3 linked regions of the Homo sapiens genome follow. The protein of the gene in region 2 interacts with the protein of the main gene of each other region in a pairwise test. Each region holds a gene or a part of one and is shown on either strand. Other genes may lie near its edges.

Region 1 (3,653 bases), on a different chromosome or scaffold from region 2:
GCTTATTCTGAAGCAATAAACATGCTTCTAGTATACCAAAAATGATCAATAAGTTAGCAACACTTTATCCATAAGAAGTCTAATTTTCAGTGCTAATGGGTATATCAGATGAAAGGATACAAATACTGTTCCTGATAGAGATATTCACTCCACAGAGCATCTTCTAATGCTTGAGGAGTGCTTATTCTGAAGCAATAAACATGCTTCTAGTATACCAAGAATGATCAATAAGTTAGCAACACTTTATCCATAAGAAGTCTAATTTTCAGTGCTAATGGGTATATCAGACGAAAGGATACAAATACTGTTCCTGATAGAGATATTCACTATACAGAGCATCTTCTAATGCTTGGGGAGTGCTTATTCTGAAGCAATAAACATGCTTCTGCAGAGCTTCATATAATTTTTGAACACTGCACCCCCAGTAGCATGTAAGGAGGCTATCTTCAAGGCAATCTGTTGTCAAGGTTATGCCAGCTGTAAAAAACAAAGGAGAAAGAATGAAAGTGATTTAATGTAACTTCTAATACAATCATACAGGGTGAGTAACAAAAGCTTCCTTTTGGATGCTGGCCAGGATGATGGCAGTTAAAAGAACTTGTTAAAGGGTATGCCTCCTATAAACGAAGGAACTGGCCTCTGTAACAAGAGATATAAAAGCTCAATGTCTACACATTTTTTGAGAGCTATCAAAAAACTATTTCTTACTATTTATCTATTAAAGCTTAGAAACTGTTAATTTTCTTTTTTGGCGACTCTAAGACATTTCCCATCTAGATTTTTAAAACTAAAATACAGTTCACTATTGATAACCTACCACTCTCATAGTGTATATGATCCTAACGACAAGAAACAGTGCAGCAGAATACAGCTGTCCTCTAAAGGGGATATGTACAACCTATAGGCTCCACAACATGATCGCTGTTGTAAGAAAAATATTAAAAAGAAACTGAGCTTTACTAACATTAATGTATACATTGACAACATTAACATACAGGCTTGTCACAGACTTAATGTCCCATGTAATATGCAAAATATCCTGAGGAAAAGAGTGGGGATTCCAAAACATAAAGAGTTTAATAGTGGTATCTTAATTCAGTTGTTCACTTTCAACTTAAGAAGATATAACAATTTGAGTAGACCTGATTAAATGGATATACAAATTGTAAGTAGATGTGAAATTATACAGTTTTATTTAACACTTGTATAGGACTTACTTTGTGTCACCTATGTGATTTCCCCCTCCTAGTGGTATTTGTAGCAATATCACATTCAAGGGTAGCAACATCCAGCCTTTCATACTGCTGGGGGTGCAAACTGTAGCAGCGCAAACTGTAACGTGTAGTACTCCTTGGCACTGATACACTGACTAGATAAAAAGGGCCTGGTTTTGGTCATTGTTCCTGGCTCAACAGCCTTGGCATCTGATTTTGGCTCTCCAAACCTGCCAGCAATTCTGTAAGCTACCCAATATCCTTTTATTGAAGTTGTTTCTGTTGCTTGCTAATAAGAATTCTGATTGATATATTACCTATTTTTTAAAATGTGATCAAGAGTATATGTTAGAAGAAGATACACAAATACAAGCAGATGCTCCACAGGATACCAAAAACTGATTTTTCCAATTTTACTCTCAGTATTTAGTAGTATGTACACACAGTCTGAGAGTCTGAGTAGCATTGATACATGGCCATTTCTAATCATACTTAAGGAAAAATTTTAATTGGTAGGAACTTTGCATAGGTTAATTGGAGCAGGCTTTGATTTCAAATTTTTATGATTCCAATCATCAGGTATTAACTCAAGAATGAAAAATTCCATTTGATATTAAATAGCTGAAGGAAAACATTTTATTTATACATACACAAATACATATACACACATATACACACACATACAAAATCACACATATTTTTCCCTTTGTCACTGTAGAACCACATAACATGAGGCAGAAGAAAAAAGCTGGAGGTAGATACGAAAGGAAAAAATAGAAAATGCATATTTTAAAACATTGAAAAAGAAAAAACAAGAAACACAAAATGATTATTTATTATTGTATTACTAGCAAAAATGTGAAAAGATATATGTATAAGGCTACTCATTATAGCACTAGTTATCATAGCAAAATGCTGGAATAAACCCAAATGTTCATCAATGCGGATTAAATGAATAAATATAGTACTCTACAATAAAGTACTAAGAAGCTATTAAAAGTGAATAGGAAGGCGGAGGTTACAGTGAGCCGAGATCGTGCCACTGCACTACAACCTGGCTGACACAGTGAGACTCTGTCTCTTAAAAAAAAAAAAAAAAAAAAAAGAATTGAGGTATATCAGAGTATCTGCACACACTATTATGAAATGATCTTCAGAATATATTAGTAAATGAAAAAAAAGCAAGGTAGAGAAAATTAAATATATATGCTACTGTTTATCTCACAAGAATGGATACCCATATATGTGTTTGTTTACATTAAAGAAGAACAGGCTGGGTGTGGTGTTTCATGCCTGTAATTCCAGCACTTTGGGAGGCCAAGATGTGCAGATCACTTGAGCCAGGAGTTTGAGACCAGCCTGGGCCAACGTGGCAAAACCATGTCTCTACAAAACACACAAAAATTAGCTGGGCATGGTGGCACGCACCCGTGGTCCTAACTTCTTGGAAGGCTGAGGTAGGAGGATCACGGCTGCAGTCAGCCATGATCACACCACTACATTTCCACCTGGATGACAGAGTGAGACCCTGTTTCAAAAAAAGAAAAAAAAAAAAAGAACAATGGAAGGATAAGCCTTTTAAAACTCAACTTACAGCTTACAGAACATATAAAACTACCCTGTTTATTTGCTTTGTAAAAAGAAAAAAAAAGCCAGAGCCCCAAAGATTCAGAGCTACTTAAGAGACTCGTTTATAGACTTTGTATACTTAACTAAAATGGGAAGAGTGTCAGAGACCTTTGACAACTGGAGATTAATCAGATCTTAAAATGTCTCTAAAATTAATTTAAAAAAACTACAGAATCTATAAAATTATACTCTCCATAATCTCTTTTTTTAATGTTATTATTATTATACTTTAAGTTTTAGGGTACATGTGCACAATGTGCAGGTTTGCTACATATGTATACATGTGCCATGTTGGTGTCCTGCACCCATTAACTCGTCATTTAGCATTAGGTATATCTCTATAATCTTTTACAAACTTGTCCATTACATAAACTGAGGGGAGAATGTAATGATTTCCACTATCTGAAGACAGTGTCAGTACCCCCATCAAAACTATTCTCCCTTTACCTTTTCCACTTTTTTTTTTGCAAAGAGTTTCAATTTTTATGTATTTTTTTGCCTTCTAAAACTCAGTACACACATGACATCACTTTAGATCAATAGCATTAACAGAATTGGGACGTAGCTGTAAGAAAATTCAGAATCAAAATAAGTGAAGCACATGGGTGTGGTATCTCTCAAACTGTCCTTACCCAGACTATCTATAACAAGCAAATAAAGCGGAGTGTAAGAGACAGCCTTGCAAAAAAGTGAAAAAAATAAGGACTGTAGAAAATATGCTAAGCCACTAAAAAGGGAGAAATGATGGGGCGGAAAAGCCACAAACCTTCTTGAGGAAGGATCCCTGTGAGAGAAGCAGTAATAAAACAA
Region 2 (3,653 bases):
GCGTTAGCATACAGAGTCACTTTTATTCCTGACTTGGCTCTCCTTATTTTTTGTTTCTAATGTTTTGGTAAAATTTTGTGACTATTTGTCCCTTCCACTGATTTCTAGTAAGACTTTCCTGAGTTCAAATTTACCTATGTGTTCTCAAGATGCATTATTGGAAGGGAGATGAATTTGGTATTGCCGATAGTTACAAACAGCTGTTACTTCGGCTCCACTCAGGAATAATCTATATACACATTCCTGCAATTGAACACAGCTACTGATCAGTATATAATCCAATTGATTGATGGATCTCAGTGCCTCTTCCTTCATGGTGAATGGAACTAAATAAATAGATAAAATGTGCATTGCACCATGACATGAATTTCTTCCTTTGGTTCCTTATTTTCTATGATGCAGAAACTGCATAGCAGCATGTTTGAAGGTGGCCTGTCAAATTTGGGAAACTGACGGTGTGACTGAGCTAGTCACAGGGGTCTTCACAGAAAAGGCAGTCGGGGTCCTGGTCAACTGGAGATTCCATCTGAATGGTGAGTGAGTGCATCGTAAAGCTTTTGCTAAGGGCTTTAGCAATTTCTCTCCGAACCACTTGGCTGTCCCGGCTGGCTGCTGTTGATAAAGAAGCACAGGGAGATTAGCACTGATTGCACACGCATGGGCGACTGCTCTGACTCCAACTTCAAGTACTTTGTCTTTGACCTGCTGGGGTGGGGCAGAGGCAGGGCACTCAGAGGAAGCCACGTTTGCTCTGATAATCAGCTACATTCACACAGACAAGGCAGGGGAAACTCTAGTGCAGCAAAGTGCCCTGTCGCTATGGGAACTCTTTCTGTCCACTGTTATCTCTGGAGTCTGGCATTCCTAGGAGCTTACTATGGAAGGGGAGACAAGCCCTGGAAAAAGCCAAGACAGAACTATTATTTCTTATACAGCCCTGCTCACCAGCTCCCAGGGATCTCTGGGTTGCAGGCTTTGTATGTAATCAGAATTTATATCAAGGATAGTGACAGGAACCAGGAAGCGTTTAGAGCTCCCCACAGACCTTTCTTAGAGCAGCAACCCTCACTGCCATTTTTTTCCTGTCCCAAATGCTATCAGCAGGCTGTAAAGTCTCCTCCATAGCAACCTGAGTGTTTACTAGATTCTTCCATTTGCAGTGAAATATTGGCATAGTGAATGCTGTAAATTCCCTCAAGTCAGACCTAAGCCCCTTCGAGAAGATGACGATGTCTGAGAAAGCACAGTTTTCAAATGACTGTCACTAGTGTTCCTGTCCCCTGCCCCTAAGTAACTCCTTGAGTCATTTTTTAGCAGCCTAATGTGTTATCCTTGGCCTGAGCTTTCTCTTGAGGCAGTAAATGCCCTCCCACTGCCTATCCTCCCAGCTCTAGGACATATCAGAGACAAAATTAACTTCTTGAAAAAGTAATTTTAGTATAAACCTAGTATTATAAGAATTTTCTCACATGGCTACAGAATTTCTAATCATACAGTGTGGGACCCCACCATAATTCCTATTAGCACATCCATTAGCTTGTTAGAAATTTAAGAGTGGGGCTGGTGTCTCTTTCATCTTCCTATTTTCAGTGCCAGGAAAAACATCTTATACATAGGAGATACTCAATTAAGATTAAGTTTTTAATTCATTCCTATTATTTGACTGATAGGGCACCAAGCCAAACAGATGAAGTTGAATATTCAGAGTCCAAGGCCTTGAAGTGGCGGGTGCATTTTAGTCCTTTGTTCTGTCTGTCCTCAGCCCTCTGCAGTCAGCCCCAAGAATGTCGTGGGTATCATTGTTGCTATGACAACATCAATAAGTGGGCTGGTTTCAAAGGCCCTTGGTAATAGAAAACACTTTATAATGTTTTGACAAGCAACAGACAATAAGGGCAGCTCTACAAAAAGAAGGGAAATTACTGACTTTACAGGACAAGGACTGAATTTTTTCCAGGGTGTTTACAAAACTCACTGACCTGTAGCAACATGAGCTGAGAGAATTACTTGATTCATTGTTAGAGACCAGATGTGCAGGCTGTGCACAGACAGCACCCCGTCGACTGCTAAAATAAGCTCTTTCACACCACTGTAATTCAGGCTCTTTGGCACACCTGACAAAAGGGAAGAGATGGAGGCTGTAGTTATTCAACTAGATACAGCTCATTGAATTACCTAAACAAGCTGCAAAGTCCTCACCAAAATTTCAATGTGTTCATCCCTTTGCTGGTTTCTTACTTCAAATGTTTACAAATAAGATTTACCTGACTACTTCAAGGTTTACCATCAATCAAAATTTCCCACTCAGAATACTTGCAGAATTTACTATGCAATAACCAACAATGGTAATTATCCTTAGTTTTTATGGTATACTATTAAACTAACTGTGCCTTTTCCAACTATCTTTATATACACTCTGGAAAGTAAAATGAAATAACATGAAATTTGGTATCAAATAATCATGGGTTAGCATCCTGACGACAACTATTGTGAATTTACCCAAATCCCAGAACTTCTCTGACCCTCAGCACATTTGTAGTAAAATAAGGGTGTTAAGAACAACACATAGATCACAGAGATCTTTGAGGAGCAATTCAGAAAATATCTAATCATTATGAACAGCAATGTTGTACAAAGATTAGTTACTCAACAGGTCATTTAGTGAACTGTGCTAATAGAGGATCCTAACATTGTATAATACCATCTTATTCGGTTTGTAAGTTTTCTATTATTTTAGCTACATTGGAGGATGCTGTAGAAGAGATGTCTAAGTACAGCCCTTTTTTAGCCTCTACTTCAGTTATGTACAAACAACACAAACACCTGGGGTGTTTATTAAAAATAAATGTACCACGACTCCATTCCAGACCTAAAAGGAAATTTCTATGGATGAAGCTCCAAAATCTAGAGTCTTTCAGAGTGGTTTTCAACCTTGGATGCACATTAGTATTACCAGAGGAGATTTTAGAAATCCTGATGACTAAGTTACACCCAAGACCAATTAAATCAGAATCTCTGTGGATAAGGCCCAACATCAATGCTCATTTGGTGATTCTATCAGGCAGCCAAGATTGAGAACCACTGCACCAACATTCATGAGCCACTGAGCAGCTCTGCTTTGCAGTGGTTCTCTAGTCTGACTACATGTTTTTAAAAATACCAAAGCCAGCCCCAACCCCAGACAATTAAATCAGAATCTCTGGGTGATATAGTTTGCATATTTATCCTTGCCAGTGTCTCATGTTGAATTGTAATCCCTAATGCTGGAAATGGGGCCTGGTGGGAGGTGTTTGGGTCATGGTGCCAGATCCCTCATGGCTTGGTGCTGTCTTTGCGATGATGAGTGAGTTCTTGCAAGATTTGGTCATTTAAAAGTGTGTAGCACCTCCCTTGCCCTTGCTCCATTCCCATCATGTGACGTGCCTTCTCCCCCTTTGCCTTTTGCCGCTATTGGAAGCTTCTTGAGGCCTCCCCAGAAGCAAATGCCACCATGCTTCCTGTACAGCCTGCAGAACCATGAGCCAATTAACCTTATTTTCTTTATAAATTATCCAGTCTCAGGTATTTCTTTATAGCAATGTGAGAACAGCCTAATAACACTGGGTATGGGAGGCCTGAGCATAAGCATTGTTTAAAAGCTTCCCAGAGGATTA
Region 3 (3,753 bases), on a different chromosome or scaffold from region 2:
AATCAGACACACGACCAATCCATGCAGAGATCACTGCAGCTTCCTTCCCCCCACCTCCCCTTGAGATTGCGTCTCACTCTTGCTCAGCCTGGAGTGCAGTGGTACGATCACGGCTCTCTGGGCTCAGGTGAGCCTCCCACCTCAGCCTCCCAAGTAGCTGGGACCACAGGCCCTGCCCCACCACGTCCGGCTAATTTTTGTATTTTTTGTAGAGACCAGGGTCTTACTATGTTGCCCAGGTTAGCCTGGCCACTACAGCTTTGTTAAGGGCCCGGGGGGTATAACAATTAAACCTGAGGTCAGGAGCTCGAGACCAGCCTGGCCAACTTGGTGAACCCCCGTCTTTACTAAAAATAAAAAAAAGAAAGAAGTTAGCCGGGCGTGGTAGTGGGCGCCTGTAATCTCAGCTACTCGGGAGACTGAGGCAGGAGAATTTCTGGAACCTGGGAGACGGAGGTTGCAGTCAGTCGAGATAGCGCCATTGCACTCCAGACTGGGCGACAGAGAGGGCCTCCATCTCAAAAAACAAAACAGGCCGGGCGCGGTGGCTCACGCCTGTAATCCCAGCACATTGGGAGGCCGAGGCGGGCAGATCACGAGGTCAGGAAATCGAGGCCATCCTGGCTAACACGGTGAAACCCCGTCTCTACTAAAAATACAAAAAAATTAGTCGGGGGTGGTGGCGGGCACCTGTAGTAGTCCCAGCTACTCTGGAGGCTGAGGCAGGTGAATGGCGTGAACCCGGAAGGCAGAGCTTGCAGTGAGCCAAGATCGCGCCACCACACTCCAGCCTTGGCGAGAGAGCGAGACTCCATCTCAAAAACAAACAACAACAACAACAAAAAACCAGCAACATAAAAATAATATTATCTGGCCGGGCGCGGTGGCTTAAGCCGGTAATCCCAGCGCAGTGCGAGGCCAAGGCGGGCGGATCGCTTGAGTCCGGGAGTTCGAGACGCCTGGGCAATATAACAAGACCCTGTCTATACAAAACAAAACATAAATTAGCTGGGCACGGTGGCGTGTGCTGCCTGTAGTCCCAGCTACTCAGGAGGCTGAGGCGGGAGGATCGCTTGAGCCCAGAAGGTCGAGACTGCAGTGAGCCGTGATCGCACCACTGCACTCCAGCCTGGGTGACACAGTGAAAATATTTCTCTAAAATAATACCAATAGTATGCCCTTTAATTTGTACCTTAGGACGTAGTTACATAATAAAATGCAGACTTGTTATCTCCATTTTGCAGAGTAGGAAACGAAGGCTCGGGAAGGTTAGGTGAGTTCCCCATGTCACCGCGCTGCTTAAGTGGTGAAGCGGAGTCTCAAGCTCTGTTCTACCCTAAGCCTGGCGCCCTCACCCTGGGTGAGTCTGGACGTCTGCCAGCCCGAGGCGGGCCCAGCGACCCCAGCCTCCAGCGCCCCCCTCTGACAAGCCTGGGATTCGCACGCCCGCTGCCGTCAGGGACAGGGTCTCTGCCCCTCCTCCGGGGCGGTGGTCCAGTGACGTCACCGCTTCTTTAAGACCCCCGCCTCCGCCCCTGTCCCGACACTCGGCCTAGGAATTTCCCTTATCTCCTTCGCAGGTGAGTCCGGGGCTAGTGTGCGTGTTGGAGAGACGCCTCTTGGGGCCGGGTGCAGGGTGGTGGCGGCGTGGGTAGGGGTGCGTGCGAACTCGGGCTGCGGCCACCTGGATGGGCGAGTCCCTGAGGGGGTCGGCCGGTCCGCGCCCAAGCCTCCGAGGTGATAGGGTCCTTCGGGGCTCCCAAGGGTTAAACGCCCCTCCCCCCTCCCCAGGGACAAAGACTCCGAAACCCCTGGCGCCCCTCCCCCACCTGCCTTGCCTCTCGGGGCGGGGCGCCCCTCCCCCCTCCCCCTCACCTGGGGGAGCGGACCTTGCGGCCACTGCAGCTATAGAACCCCTCCAGGGCGCGCGGCTCCCAGGCTGGGGTGGTCGGGTGGGCCGGGGCGCCCTCGGACAGAGTCTTTTTCATGCAGTGCATGAAAAAGAAAGGGGCAGGGGCACACTCAGAGGGGAGAGGCCTGGGCGCCTATACCAGCGCGGCCCCGACCCTAACTCGGCCAGAGGCCTAAGGGCCGGACCTGAGCGCTGGGGCACCGTGCCCCAGCCAGTCTCCCCAAGGTGGTCTGCTCCGCCCAGGCCTGGGGCCCCCGGCTAATGAGTAGAGCCTGCCCTCCGACCGCTGCCGGCCGGGAAAAGTTTAGGTCCAAGCCGTACAATGAAAGTACTCTGGGCAGTGGGAGGCCACAGCCCGGCCCTAGTCAGAAGTGATTCCCTCCACGACCTCCAACACTGAGGGGACACAGGTGCAGGCCAGGTGGCGGTGGGAGAACTGGTGTTGAGGGGAGTCTAGCACGGCATTTTCGTCTAGAATTCATAGGAAAAGGCCCTCAGCCTTGAGGCTATGCTCTCCGGCGCCTAGGGCAGGTCAGAAGGGTGGGGCCAGGGAGTTATCCACTGGCTTTGGGGGAGGAACTGCTTTTAGATGGGGGATTAATGATGCTTTTCTTCATCTCTCCTGGTCCTGGTGTCTGCCAGCCTGGGGTGTGGAACCAAGTTGTGAGGGACATTGGGTGGTGGGAGGAAGCTTAGGATCTCCAATCTTAGTGTTGAAATTAACAAGTTTTGGTTGGGCACGGTGGCTCACACCTGTAATCCCAGCACTTTGGGAGGCTTGAGGCGGGCAGATCACCTGAGGTCAGGAGTTCGAGACCCGCCTGGCCAACTTGATGAAACCCTGTTTCTACTAAAAATACAAAAATTAAGACCAGGTGTGGTGGCTCATGCCTGTAATCCCAGCACTCTGGGAGGCTGAGGCGGGAGGATCACGAAGTCAGGAGATCGAGACCATCCTGGCTAACACAGTGAAACCCCGTCTCTACTAAAAATACAAAAAAATTAGCCGGGCGTGGTGGTGAGCGCCTGTAGTCCCAGCTACTCGGGAGGCTGAGGCAGGAGAATGGCGTGAACCGGGGAGGCAGAACTTGCAGTGAGCCGAGATCCCGCCACTGCACTCCAGGCTGGGCGACAGAGCGAGACTCCGTCTTAAAAAAAAAAAAAAAAAATTAGCCGGGCGTGGTGGTGTGCACCTGTAATCCCAGCTACTTGGGAGGCTGAGGCAGGAGAATCGCTTGAACCTGGGAGGCAGAGGTTGCAGTGAGTGGAGATGGCACCACTGCACTCTAGCCTGGGCCACAGAGCGAGACTCCTCGTCTCAAACAAACAAACAAAACAAATGGACAAGTTTTGAGCCTTAAACTCAGGGCTAGAATTGAACCATTCTACACGGAAACTGCTTGGAAATCGCACCGTCCTGTCATCCTGCTTTTTGCCGCCTTGCAGCCTGATCACTGGCTCTGGCCTTGGACTGTCATTGTATAGGTTTCATCCTGTTATCTTTCATTTGCATTCAGGATAGCCAGGGCAGGGCTGCTTGCACAGTCACTGTCATCAGCCAGTGCCTGTCACATAACTAGAAAGAATAATAAATGCTAAAGCATTAAGTGTCCATTTTGCCCACGAGAAGTGAGGCTCAGGGAGCATGTCTTGACTGAGTTCCAGGATGTGATGACCACTTTCCAGGGTGCATGCCCCTAGAGTCCTGTCCACATGTGGCCTGAGGTCTGGGCCTGCCAGGCCTCACCTTGTTGTGCTTCTGTCCCAAACACAGTGCAGCTCCTTCAACCTCGCCATGGCCTCTGCCGGAATGCAGATCCTGGGAGTCGTCCTGACACTGC

The links.
Region 1: the proteins of SLC30A8 (region 2) and CGRRF1 interact in binary tests that used the Homo sapiens proteins (3 or more experiments, as listed by UniProt).
Region 3: the proteins of SLC30A8 (region 2) and CLDN6 interact in binary tests that used the Homo sapiens proteins (3 or more experiments, as listed by UniProt).

What each region holds. Positions count from the first base shown.
Region 1 is NC_000014.9:54,526,873-54,530,525, reverse strand, and holds part of CGRRF1 (cell growth regulator with RING finger domain protein 1), read right to left. Parts: intron 478-3,653; coding exon 300-477; intron 1-299. UniProt on the Homo sapiens protein: Able to inhibit growth in several cell lines.
Region 2 is NC_000008.11:117,169,495-117,173,147, reverse strand, and holds part of SLC30A8 (proton-coupled zinc antiporter SLC30A8), read right to left. Parts: intron 2,115-3,653; coding exon 1,980-2,114; intron 613-1,979; coding exon 467-612; 3' UTR 1-466. UniProt on the Homo sapiens protein: Proton-coupled zinc ion antiporter mediating the entry of zinc into the lumen of pancreatic beta cell secretory granules, thereby regulating insulin secretion.
Region 3 is NC_000016.10:3,015,976-3,019,728, reverse strand, and holds the start of CLDN6 (claudin-6), read left to right. Parts: upstream 1-1,545; 5' UTR 1,546-1,580; intron 1,581-3,686; 5' UTR 3,687-3,707; coding exon 3,708-3,753.